Linked DNA regions of Homo sapiens. The gene in region 2 interacts genetically with the main gene of each other region. Each region holds a gene or a part of one and is shown on either strand. Other genes may lie near its edges.

The links.
Region 1: of PEX11B (region 2) and DNM1L, changing one enhances a phenotype caused by changing the other (phenotypic enhancement), as found in Homo sapiens cells (one study listed by BioGRID).

Annotation. Positions count from the first base shown.
Region 1 is NC_000012.12:32,674,299-32,682,321, forward strand, and holds the start of DNM1L (dynamin-1-like protein), read left to right. Parts: upstream 1-5,002; 5' UTR 5,003-5,065; coding exon 5,066-5,167; intron 5,168-8,023. UniProt on the Homo sapiens protein: Functions in mitochondrial and peroxisomal division.
Region 2 is NC_000001.11:145,910,850-145,915,743, reverse strand, and holds the end of PEX11B (peroxisomal membrane protein 11B), read left to right. Parts: intron 1-3,177; coding exon 3,178-3,583; 3' UTR 3,584-4,394; downstream 4,395-4,894. UniProt on the Homo sapiens protein: Involved in peroxisomal proliferation. May regulate peroxisome division by recruiting the dynamin-related GTPase DNM1L to the peroxisomal membrane. Promotes membrane protrusion and elongation on the peroxisomal surface.

The DNA of each region.
Region 1 (8,023 bases), on a different chromosome or scaffold from region 2:
TTTTCTGGGGGTCAGAGGCCTGATGACAGCAGAAGAGTTAAAGAGATGCGACATTGCTGGCTTTGAAGAGGTTGGAAGGAGGTAACCAGCAAGGAATGCAGGGGGCCCCTAACAAAGGCAAGGAGGTGAATTCCCTGCTAGAGGCTTTAGGAGGGTTTGCAGCCCTGGTGACACCTTGATTTTAGTCCAGTGAGACCTGTGTGAGACTACTGAACTATAGAACTGTAAAACAATACTTTTTTTTTTTTTTTGACATGGAGTCTCACTGTGTTGCCCAGGCTGGAGTGCAGTGGCGTGATCTTGGCTCACTGCAAGCTCTGCCTCCCAGGTTCACGCCATTCTCCTGCCTCGGCCTCCCGGGTAGCTGGGACTACAGGTACCCGCCACCACGCCCGGTTAATTTTTTGTATTTTTACTAGAGACAGGGCTTCACCATGTTAGCCAGGATGGTCTCAATCTCCTGAACTCGTGATCCGCCCGCCTCGGCCTCCCAAAGTGCTGGGATTACAGAAGTGAGCCATTGCGCCTGGCCACATTTTTGTTGTTTTAAGCCACTAAAATTGTGGTAATTTGTTAAGGCAGCAATAGGGAACTAATATACTAGAGAAGCAAGGCAGAAACCAGGTTCCTAGGTTTCAGTTCCTCCCCAGTTCTCTCTGCCTCATCTGCTGTGAGACAGCTTGCTGAATGAGATCCCCTACACCCTCCCCCACAGCACACTCACCTCATTCCACAGGAGTAAACTGCGTGAGAGAATGAAATAGACGATGTAGTGATAAGATGTAGAGCTCTGATTCTGCCTGAGCTCCTAGTTCCAGTCATTTTTTTTTTTGAGGTGGAGTGTCACTGTGTCACCCAGGCTGGAATGCGGTGACGTGATTTTGGCTCACTGAAACTTCCGCCTCCCGGGTTCAAGCAATTCTCCTGCCTCAGCCTCCCGAGTGGCTGGGATTACAGGCTCTCACCACCACCCCCAGCTAATTTTTGTGTTTTTAGTAGAGACGAGGTTTCACCATGTTGGCCAGGCTGGTCTTGAACTCCTGACCCCAACTGATCCACCCATCTCGGCCTCCCAAAGTGCTTGGATTACAGGCTAGAGCCACTGCGCCCAGACATTCAGTCATTTTTGAGGCAAGTTAGCTCAGAATTAAATTTCTGTCCTTACAATTAGCTATCCTGCCTAAATCATAAAGCTATGGTGAGAGAGGGATGGTTGCAGGAGAAGAGGTGTTTTTTGTTGTTGTTGTTTTTTTTTTTTGAGATAGAGTCTCACTCTGTTGCCCAGGCTGTAGTGCAGTGGCGCGATCTTGGCTTGCTGCAACCTCTGCCTCCCAGGTTCAAACAATTCTCCTGCCTCAGCCTCCCCAGTAGCTAGGACTACAGGCGCGTGCCAGCACGCCTGGCTAATTTTTTGTATTTTTAGTAGAGACGGGGTTTCACCGTGTTAGCCAGGATGGTCTCCATCTCCTGACCTCGTGATCCACCCACTTCGGCCTCCCAAAGTGCTGGGATTACAGGTGTGAGGCACCGCACCTGGCCGAGAAGAGGTTTTTTTAAAGGCCTTTTGATATCCGATAATGGTTTAATGTGATTCCCACAGGAAGCCACTGAAGAACACATTATTCTTAGATGCACAAAGACTCTTTTTTGTGGGAAATCCATTTAGCCACTTATTAGTTAAATTGATTTCCCACAAACAAGAGTGTTCTGAACTTAAAACATGAAAGCCGAAATTGGTTTTTTTTCTTCTTTTTTTTTTTTTTTAGTTGGAGTTTTGCTCTTGCCGCCCAGGCTGGAGTGCAGTGGCGCGATCTCGGCTCACTGCAACCTCTGCCTCCCGGGTTCAAGCGATTCTCCTGCCTCAGCCTCCCGAGTAGCTGGGATTACAGGCACGCGCCACACCAGGCTAATTTTTTTTTTGTATTCTTAGTAGAGATGGGGTTTCACCATGTTTGTCAGGCTGGTCTTGAACTCCTGACCTCAGGTGACCCGCCCACCTCGGCCTTCCAAAGTGCTGGGATTACAGGCGTGAGCCACCGGGCCTGGCTCTTTTTTTTTTTTTTTTTTTTTGAGACGGAGTTTTGCTCCTGTTGCCAAGGCTGGAATGCAATGGTGCAATCTCGGCTCACCGCAACCTCTGCCTCCCGGGTTCAAGCAATTCTCCTGCCTCAGCCTCCCGAGTAGCTGGGATTACAGGCGTGCACCATCACGCCCAGCTAATTTTTGTATTTTTAGTAGAGATGGGGTTTCTCCATGTTGGTCAGGCTGGTCTTGAACTCCCGACATCAGGTGATATGCCCACCTTGGCCTCCTGAAGTACTGGGATTACAGGCATGAGCCACCGTGCCCGGCCTTCTGTTTTCTTTAGAAGAAAACAAAAGCTCCATCAACAGAGGGGTGAGAAGCAAAGTGGGTAATATCTGACTATTATGTAATATTATCTTTGGTAGAAAGTCAAGAGACTTGGAATAAAACTGTTTTTTGGAGTTCTGAAATTTTTGTCTTATTTTATCTCTGAAAAATTTTTTTTTTGAAAATAATCAAAGAGGAGATGTTCACAAAACCTGTCAAGATGCCAAAACACCACTAATGGATCTTTAGGTCTTGGCTTACTTCATCCATTTGTTCACAGATATTTATTAAGCACCTGCCATTTGTCCTGCTGAACAAATCAAGCATGTTCCCCGCAGCCATTGTGTACAGCTAAGCAGGTGAATGGCACCCACTGGAGTTGCGTAGTGCACAACTTCCACTACTGCTGGTGGTTCTTGTCCTCATGGAGATTAAATTTAGTAACTTCTAGGAAGTCTTTCTCGAATCTCTATCCTCTTGCTCAGACTGGAAAAAGTGCTCTTATTATGTTTTCTTTTCTCTTTTCTCTTTTTTTTTTTTTGACACAGGGCCTCACTCTGTCACTTAGGCTGGAGTGCGGTGGCACGATCACAGTTCACTGCAGTCCCCACCTCCCAAGCTTAGGTGATCCTCCTACTGCAGCCTCCCAAGTAGTTGGGGCCACAGGTATGCACCACCACGACAGGCAAGCTAATTTTTTTGTATTTTTTGTAGAGACTGGGTTTTGCCGTGTTGCCCAGGCTGGCCTTGAACTCCTGACCTCAAGTGATCTGCCCGTCTCCTGCCTCAGCCTCCTGAGTAGCTGGGATTACAGGAATGCACCACCACGCCCGGTTAATTTTTGTATTTTTAGTAGAGACGGGGTTTCTCCATGTTGGTCAGGCTGGTCTTGAACTCCTGACCTCAAGTGATCCGCCTGCCTTGGCCTCCCAAAGTGCTGGAATTACAGGCGTGAGCCACGGTGCCTGGCCTCTCCTCACCTGCTTTAATTCTTTACTCAAATGTCACCTTTTTACTTTGAGGTTTACTTTTACCTTTGGAGGTTTGGAGTAGAGGAGGGATACTATCTGTCTAAAAAGAAAAACAACATTTAGAAATATAACAGTATGGGCCGGGCATGGTGGCTCAGGCCTGTAATCCCAGGACTGTGGGAGGCCAAGATGGGCGGATCACTTGAGGTCAGGAGTTCGAGACCAGCCTGGCTAACATGGTGAAACCCCGCCCCCCACCCGTCTCTACTAAAAATACAAAAATTTTCCCAGGGTGGTGGCGGGTGCCTGTAATAACAGCTACTTGGGGGGCTGAGGCAGGAGAATCACTTCAGCCTGGGAGGAGGAGGCTGCAGTGAGCCGAGATTGCGCCACTGCATTCCAGCCTGGGCGACAGAGTCAGACTCTGTCTCAAAAAAAAAAAAGAACGGTATGAGCAAAGAGTGAGTAAGGCAGTTATCAGATGTCTACTTTGCCAGGAATCAGGCTACAGCAAATAAAGGTTTATACATAATATTGATAATAAATGCCCAGCTCTTCCCCTGTAAAACTCCAATACTCTAAGATTTTTTTCATGAACACCGCCCCCCGCTGCTCCGACCCCTGCTTTTTTATTTATTTATTTATTTATTTGGTAGAGATGAGGTCTCACTATGTTGACCAGGCTGGTCTCGAACTCCCAGCTCAAGCGATCCTCCTGCTTCTGCTTCCTAAAGTGCTGGGATTACACCGCGCTCGGTCCTGAACACACATTTTGTTTGTTTGTTTGTTTGTTTACAAAACCCCTGGAGAACCCGCGTATTCTAACCTGGGCTGGTTTTTGTATTTTTGCAAAATAACACCCCACACATTCTCGTATCAGCGTGCAGATTTTTTTGCACCCAGTTTGGTTGTTTGCGGCCATAAGCTTTTCTTTAAGCCTTTCCAACCCGTCCTTCTAGAGAAAGTGTCTTCATAAGGAAGTCACACTGCTCACGCCTGTAATCCCAACACTTTGGGAGGCCGAGGCGGGTGGATCACTAGGTCCGGAGATCGAGACCATCCTGGAAAACACAGTGAAACCCCGTCTCTACTAAAAATACAAAAAATTAGCCGGGCGTAGTGGTGGGTGCCTGTAGTCCCAGCTACTCCGAAGGCTGAGGCAGGAGAATGGCGTGAACCCGGGAGGCGGAATTTGCAGTGGGCCGAGATCGCGCCACTGCACTCCAGCCTGGGCGACAGAGTGAGACTCCGTCTCAAAAAAAAAAAAAAAATAAATAAATAAAAAATAAATAAAAGGAAGTGACACTGGATAATTAAGAGACACACCATTGCGCCTTTAACACATATTCACACCCAGCACTGTCACATCCATCGTGCCTTGAGGACAGGCATAAATTTACGGCCTTCCTCCTGCGCTCCCGGCCTGCTCCTAGCCTTTGACTAGAGCCTGCGCAGCATCCCAGTCCCAGGCTAGGGCCCACCGGTGCCGCGCAGCCTCCTGGAAGCTGTGGGGAGTAGCGTTCCTCCGCTCCAGAACTACAACTCCCAGCAGGCCTTGCTCCTCTCCACCTCCCTCGCAGCGCATGGCCTGCCGGGAGGGGGCAGGTAGCCGGCGGGCCCGGTCCAATGGGTGCCGGCTTCCGAGGAGAGGGCGGAGGAGAGGAGGAAGGAGGCGAACTGTGGGCCCCGGCCCCATTCATTGCCGTGGCCGGCGGGCACTGGGGCCCCGTGTTTTCAGAGTCATGGAGGCGCTAATTCCTGTCATAAACAAGCTCCAGGACGTCTTCAACACGGTGGGCGCCGACATCATCCAGCTGCCTCAAATCGTCGTAGTGGGAACGCAGGTGAGAGCAGCAGGCGGCGTTCGCTCGGGCCAGACCCCGGCCGCAGGCCTGGTCGGTGCTGCGGCAGTGCCCACTCCCGCGCCAGCGCCCACTCCCGCGCCAGCCTTTGGGGCCTGTGGGAGGAGGGCCTTGCTGGGGGCCCCAGGGCTCTCCGGGCTCTGCCGCACCCGCCCTCCCGGGGCAGCGTTGCATCAAGGCGGAGAATCCGGGGCCCGGCCAGGGGCGGAGCCGGCGCGGCGGGCCTGGCTAGCCCGGCGGGTCCCGGGGACAGGAGAGGGAAGGATGGGGCCGGCGGGCGGAACTGGAGTCCGCTGGGACCGGGCGCGGCCTCGTCCGCGTGCCGCTGCCTCCAAGGGCACCTGGGGGACGCGCGGGGCACTCGGGTCTCGCTGGGCTCGGTGGGCTGGCTGTTCCCATCACTGTTGGCTTTCGTGAGACGGGTGTTTTATTTCCCTCCTTGCCTTGCCCAGGGACTGCGGAGTTAGTTTTGGAATCGCTCTGTTGAGGCTGAGAGACGCTACGGTGCGTGAGCGCCAGTGTTTTCCTGCAGTATAATTCCACCAGGTTTCGAGAACGCCGAAGCAGCATTTTAAAAAAAGAAAAACAAAACGTGTATCTAGAGTTCTGCGGGTGTTGGGAAGGAATATCCGATTTTTCTGCGTAGGCTGTGCTTTTTGTCTTCCACAGTTTTGTGATCGTGACCTAAATTGGGCATCAGTTTCTCTGGTCTTCTCATAGCTAACTCATTTTTTTTTGAATGCAGAAATGTTGGCAAAATAACTGTTATTTCTAGAGTGACAGAGGAGAAGTATAATTTTCCTTTTCTCTGCTACTTCGATTAGAGTTCAGAGAAACGGATTTTAGAAATTAGTATATTGATATTAAGTGCTTTCATTTCTTAATAGTATCTTTTCTATTGAGAAGGAGCGGTTTCCCCATCATTTTCCAGGAGGTACATAGTATAGGGTATAAGTGCTATCAGAAGGAACTTACTGTTCAAAGTATTAGTGGCTATCCAAACACTGGAAACTATAGACACCCTGTACTCGTTTGTTTGTTTGTTTGTTTTTTTGGCTTTTAAATAGTTGAAGCAATAGAAATTGTTTTAGAAACACATTTCCTTGGTCTGCGATAGGATTGGGAAAGATTCTGCTCAATCTTGCCTACGTATTCTAGTATTTGTAACAATATTTGTAATGTTTGGAGACTCAGAAGCATCAAACAAATTACGAGGATTATTTTTTATTGAACATAATTTTGTTCAGTCTGGGACATATAGTAAGTGCTCTGTAAATATTTTGAGTAAATATTGCTCACTCTAACCACAATGTTTTAAAACACTGGGACTTTTATCATCAAAACTAACCTGTTTTTGTAAAAAGTTAGAGATAATATAAATTAAGTCTTTGATAGTAAGTGATTCAGAAGTGTCTTCTAGCTGCACACTAGAAACTTTCCACATACTTTTAAAAGAGAGTCTCAGTGCTTTTTAAGCATGAGGAAGTAAAAGAATTAGGGATATAGTGTGTCAGCATAAATAGTTTAAAATCAATAAGTTGTTTTTTTCTTTTTACACAAAATAGAGTTTATTTTGGTCAGTAAACCTGTTGGCAAAATACAGAGTGGCAGGAGAGAAAAGTAAAGATCCCATCCTTCTGAAAGCCATTAACATGTGCAAAAACCATCCTAGTACTGACAGTTATATGCTATATTTGCATGTTGGTGTTTGAAATTTCTCAAGAGGTCAGTTTTTCTACTTGATTTAATGAGGGTTATTTCCATCTAAGTTCTTATTAGCTGATAATCAGTCTTTTACTCAAGTACAGAAGAAATACAGAATAGAAATTATCCGAGGTAGGCAGATCACTTGATTCCAGGAGTTCAAGACCAGCCTGGGCAACGTGGGGAAACTCCATCTTTACGAAAAATACGAAAATTAGCTGGGCATGGTGGTGCGAACCTGTAGTCCCAGCTACTCTGCAGGCTGAGGTGGGAGGATCACCTGAGCCTGGGAGGTTGAGGCTGTGGTGCGTGCAGGAGTGCATGTCACTGCACCCCAGCAGAAAGAGAGAGAATAGAAACTATTTTCTCCCCACACCGCCCCCCCCGCCCCTATTTTCTCCCCACACCGCCCCCCCGCCCCCGCCTTTTTTGTAGTGTGTTGGGGAAACAAGAATCTCTTCTTGGTTTGAATACTAGTATACCATTACTTTGTGATGTCTGCCATTTTTACTCTTTGGTGTTGTGTAACATATATGTATACCTCACATTTATATTTAATGAAGTAATTGTAGTGAGTGAGTTCCAGACATATAAGTGTTCTGTACTTAGTTCTGCCTAGTATACCTATCGGCAGTAATTGTGTCTTCAGAATACAGGTATAAATTAGCCAGGTGCTATGGTGTGTAGTGTGTGCCGGTAGTCCCAGCTACTTGGGAAGATTGCCTGAGTCCAGGAGTTTGAGGCTGCAGTGAGCTATGATTCTGCGATGGCACTCCAGCCTGGGCGACAGAGTGAGACCCTGATTCTTCCAAAAAAAAATTAAAAAACAACTTCAAGTGTAGTCTCTATCCTACATATTATCCATACCTTAAATGGCTTCAGTTTCTATCTTGTTGAACTTTTTGGAACAGTGATTCTCAGACTTGAGTGTGTATTAAGAATCACTTTGGTTTTTTTTTTTTGAGACCGAGTTTCGCTCTTGTTGCCCAGGCTAGAGTGCAGTGCCATGATCTTGGTTCACTGCAACCTCTGCCTCCCGGCTTCAAGTGATTCTCCTGCCTCAGCCTCCCACATAGCTGGGATTACAGGCATGCACCACCACGCCCGGCTAATTTTGTATTTTTAGTAGAGACA
Region 2 (4,894 bases):
GAGACTCGCTTGAACCCGGGAGGCAAAGGTTGCAGTGAGCCGAGATCGTGCTATTGCACTCCAGCCTAGGTGACAAGAGCAAGACTCCATCTCAAAAAAAAAAAAAAAAGAAAAGAAAAGAAAAGAAAATGGATTGCAGTGGGTCAAGAGAGGAGGAGATGCCCTAATACGAGCAAGAGATGACGTTGGCTTGGACAAAGGAGGTAGCTGACAATAAAGGTAGAGAGAAATATGATGTGGGAGTAAAATTCTCTAACATATTATCTGTATTGTTTTTCGTTTTCCTATGATTGTACTTTTTCATTATATTAACCTTGCTTTTCCCTTCATCTTTCTCAGTGATTTACAACTTTAACATGGCTTATGATGTATGAGGGGTGGGAGCAGAGGCATGGCTGGAGCAGTATGGAAAAGCAACTCCCTAAAGGAGTCTATATGTTATATTTATTCATTTCATCCAACAGATACTTACTGAGCTCTTACTATATGGTAGGCACCAGTGTACATACAGGGATACAGTGGTTAAAGATAAACAAGGCCGGCCAGGTGCGGTGGCTCATGCCTGTAATCCCAGCACTTTGGGAGGCCAAGGCGGGCGGATCACCTGAGGTCAGGAGTTTTGAGACCAGCCTGACCGGCATGGAGAAACCCCGTCTCTACTAAAAATACAAAATTAGCCGGGTGTGGTGGCGCATGCCTGTAATCCCAGCTACTCGGGAGGTTGAGGCAGGAGAATCGCTTGAACCCGGGAGGCAGAGTTTGTGGTGAGCCGAGATCGTGCCATTGTACTCTAGCCTGGGCAACAACAGTGAAATACCGTCTCAAAAAAAAAGAAAAGACAAACAAGGCCTCTGCTCCTCTGGAACTTACCTTGTAATGGGATGAGATAAACATAAATAAACAATAAATTAAAATATCAGATACTGGTAAATGTTATGCAGGAAATTAAAACAGTGTTATGGAGTAGAGAGTAACTGACTCAGTGCTTTAGATTTAGGGATAAGGGAAGGCGTCTCCGAAGAGGTGATACTTAAGCTCATACCTGAAGAGCAAGAAAGAGCTAGCTATGTGAGGGTTTTGGAGGGAGAATATTCCAGGTGGAGGGAGAATATTCCAGGTAGAGGGAATAGGTAGTGCAAAGGTCCTAAGGCAAGAACAAGCTTGATGGGATTAAAATGTAGAAGGAAACCAACATGGTTGGAGCATAATGATTGCAGGAAAGAATGATACAAGGTAAAGTTAGAGGGGTAGGGACCAGATGTTGAGTCTGTAAGCCTCTCTAAGGTATTTATATTTTATTATGAATGTGACAGGAAGAAAACCATGGAGAGCTGTGGTTTGTTTATTTGTTTTTGGTTTTTTTTTTTTTTGAGATGGAGTCTTGCTCTGTCGCCCAGGCTGGAGCGCAATGGTGCAATCTCAGCTCACTGCAACGTCCATCTCTTGGGTTCAAGTGATTCTGCTGCCTCAGCCTCCTGAGTAGCTGGGATTACAGGCACGCGCCACCACACCCAGCTAATTTTTGTATTTTTAGTAGAGACAGGGTTTCACCACGTTGGTCAGGCTAGTCTCCAACTCCTGACCTCATGATCCACTTGCCTCCACCTCCCGAAGTGCTGGGATTATAGGCGTGAGCCACCACGCCTGGCCAACCATGGAGAGTTTTAAGAAGGGAAGTAATGATGTGATTTATGTTTATGCTAGCTATTATATGAAAATAGATTGTTGGGGGTGGGGGCAACAATGGCCACAGTGAGACCAGTTAAAACATTAAAGCAGAAGTCCAGACAAGAGATGTTAGTGGCTTAGAGTATGGCAGTGCGGTGTGATAGAGAGATGTGGTTGGTTGGGTTCAGGATATACTTTGAAGGTAGTACAAGTTATTGAGTACAGACCACCATTGTCAGATTGGATTACAAATAAAAAACATGGATTTTTTACTGAAGAAATTTATAATTTAACACATTTGGCAATTACTTAAACCTCTGGGCCTCTAAAGGAATAGGGATTGGATTTAGATCACCTTTAATATGTTTGAGTCTCTGAGACATCTGAAATTTGTTCTTTCAAAACAAGTTTGCCTTGTTATAGGTCAAGTTGAGAGAGAGATGGAGAGTGTGTGTGTGTGTGTGTGTGTGTGTGTGTGTGTGTTGCCAAGTGGAAAATGAAATTTGAGATTGACCTTGGAAGATTTCATGATGCTCATGGAGTTTAAACCAGGATCTTAAGGTGCACATAAACATGTATTAGTTACAGAATGTTGGGAGGACTTTGTTTCTTCATTTTTATTGGGACATAATTGACAAATAGAAATTACATATATTTAAGGAGTTATAGCTCGATGTTTGTACATGTACGTTGTGACATGATCACCACAGTCAAGCTAATTAACATATCCATCACCTCACATAATTACCTTTTTTCTTTTATGGTAAGAACACTTAAGATCTACCTTCCTGGCAGATTTCAAATATACAATACAGTATTGTTAACTATAGTCACAATGTAGTACATTAGATCTCCAGAACTTACTCATCTTGCATAACTGAAACTTATACGCTTTGACCAGTATCTTCCCATTTCCCTCACTCCCCAACCCCTGGCAACCCCCATTCTATTCTGTGCCCCTATGAGTTAGCCTTTTTTTTTTTTTTTTGAGACAGAGTCTTGCTTTGTTGCCCAGGCCGGAGTGCAGTGGTGAGATCTCGGCTCACTGCAACCTCTGCTTCCTGGGTTCAAGCAATTCTCATGCCTCAGCCTCCCAAGTAGCTGGGATTACAGGTGCTGGCCACCACAACTGGCCAATTTTTGTATTTTTAGTAGGGACGGGGTTTCACCATGTTGGCCAGGCTGGTCTTAAACTCCTGACCTCAGGTGATCCACCTGCCTTGGCCTCCCAAAGTGCTGGGATTACAGGCATGAGCCACCACGCCCGGCCTTATTTTAGCTTCCACCTATAAGTGAGATTATGCAGTATTTGTCTTTCTGTGTCTGGCTTATTTTGCTTAGCATAGTGTCCTCGATGGAGGACATTTCTAATAGGGGTAATAGCATTCACTTTACTTCTGATCTAATGTGTAATCTCTTTGCTACAGGAAAAGAAAATGTTAAAATGTGATGTTGGATATGTTAAGTAGGTATACATGCCCTTACTGACCCTTTTGCTCTGTGTATCAGGTACTATTTGTTTTCCCTCATCATGAATTTGAGCCGTGATGCTTATGAGATTCGCCTACTGATGGAGCAAGAGTCTTCTGCTTGTAGCCGGCGACTGAAAGGTTCTGGAGGAGGAGTCCCAGGAGGAAGTGAAACTGGGGGACTTGGGGGACCAGGGACTCCAGGAGGAGGTCTGCCCCAACTGGCTCTGAAACTTCGGCTGCAAGTCCTGCTCCTGGCTCGAGTCCTTAGAGGTCATCCCCCACTTCTGCTAGACGTGGTCAGAAATGCCTGTGATCTCTTCATTCCTCTGGACAAACTAGGCCTCTGGCGCTGTGGCCCTGGGATTGTGGGGCTTTGTGGCCTCGTGTCCTCCATCCTGTCTATTCTCACCCTAATCTATCCCTGGCTACGACTCAAGCCCTGACCTTCCGGTACAGGATAAGGAGGGGACCTGAATTGGTGAGATGGAATCTTAGATCGTCCCCCATGTGCCAGCCTCATTCGAATTCTACTCTTTGGTTAAAGTTAGAAATTCAGAGATTTAGGGGTGGAGGAAGAGCTTTGGGGAAGATGAGGTAAGGAAAGATGACTCGTGAAGTTAATAGGATGTCTCTAATTTCTAGATGTGCCTGAGCTTCTGTTCTTTTCCTCTTTCTTTGTGTCTCTCTTGAATATATTTACTTTGTGTCTCTTAACTCTGTTTAAGGTTCTGTGTCTATGCATCTCTCTCTTTCTTTTTTCAACCTTCTCATTCTCCTATCCAGGGATTTAATCAGCAGAATTACTTTTTGATAGGGGAGGTATAAGGTTTGGCCTGTAAGGTTCTAACTGCCTTCTTTTTTCTCACAGAGGTGGCTTATGGCAGATTTTTCCTCCTTCAAACTCCAAACATAATTTTTAAGACTATGTGCCAGTGGACTCTTCCCTTATATCTCTGCACCACAAGTTGTTGGATGTTTCCTCTTCCTCCCTTATGTCTACCTCACCAACCTCGCTCATCATTTGGCCCTTATCCTTCCTTGTACACCTACCTTCAGATTTCTGCTTACACTTTGATTTCAGAGCTTTATTCCCCAGTCTGTTCTTACTCCTTTGTCGCTTATCCAGAATGATGCTATGTGTAGCATCTTGCTGTAAATCCTGTACAATGATTCTGTGTAAATAGCTGTGGCCTATGCCAATAATGAAGAGCAAGCCTTTCAGGTAAGCAAATTAAAGTTCAGTTTGCTCATCGACATTTGGTCTGGTCCCTCATTTTTTGGTAATTTGAGGCCCCTATTCCTGTCACTGTGGTTTGGGTTTTTCTCGGGATTAGCCACTAACATCACCCACATTATTTTTCTTGAGCACCTACAGTATGTAAAGCAACATACTTAGTGGGCATCCAAAAATCTAAGAAGCTCCACACTCCCAACTTTAAGAAGTTTATAACCTAGCTGAGGAGTTGGGGTGGCAGAGGAGTGGTCTAATACTAAAGTTATTGTCCTGGCTCCACAAAGCACATCTCATACCAGTTCAGATATAATCCCTCTAAGAAGCAGAATGCCATATGACAGCATAGGCTAAGAGCCAAGGACAGAACCAAGTGGAGTGGGGCTGGTAAGGATTTGGAGCTGTGTCTTCACAAGTTGAGACTCCCCTGGGTGGGTAGGGAAATGATACCACTGCTATCAGCTCTTTCATTTTCCATATTCCAGGTTGAGATAAATAAGGTTAGGAAGTGAATCTATCGGCC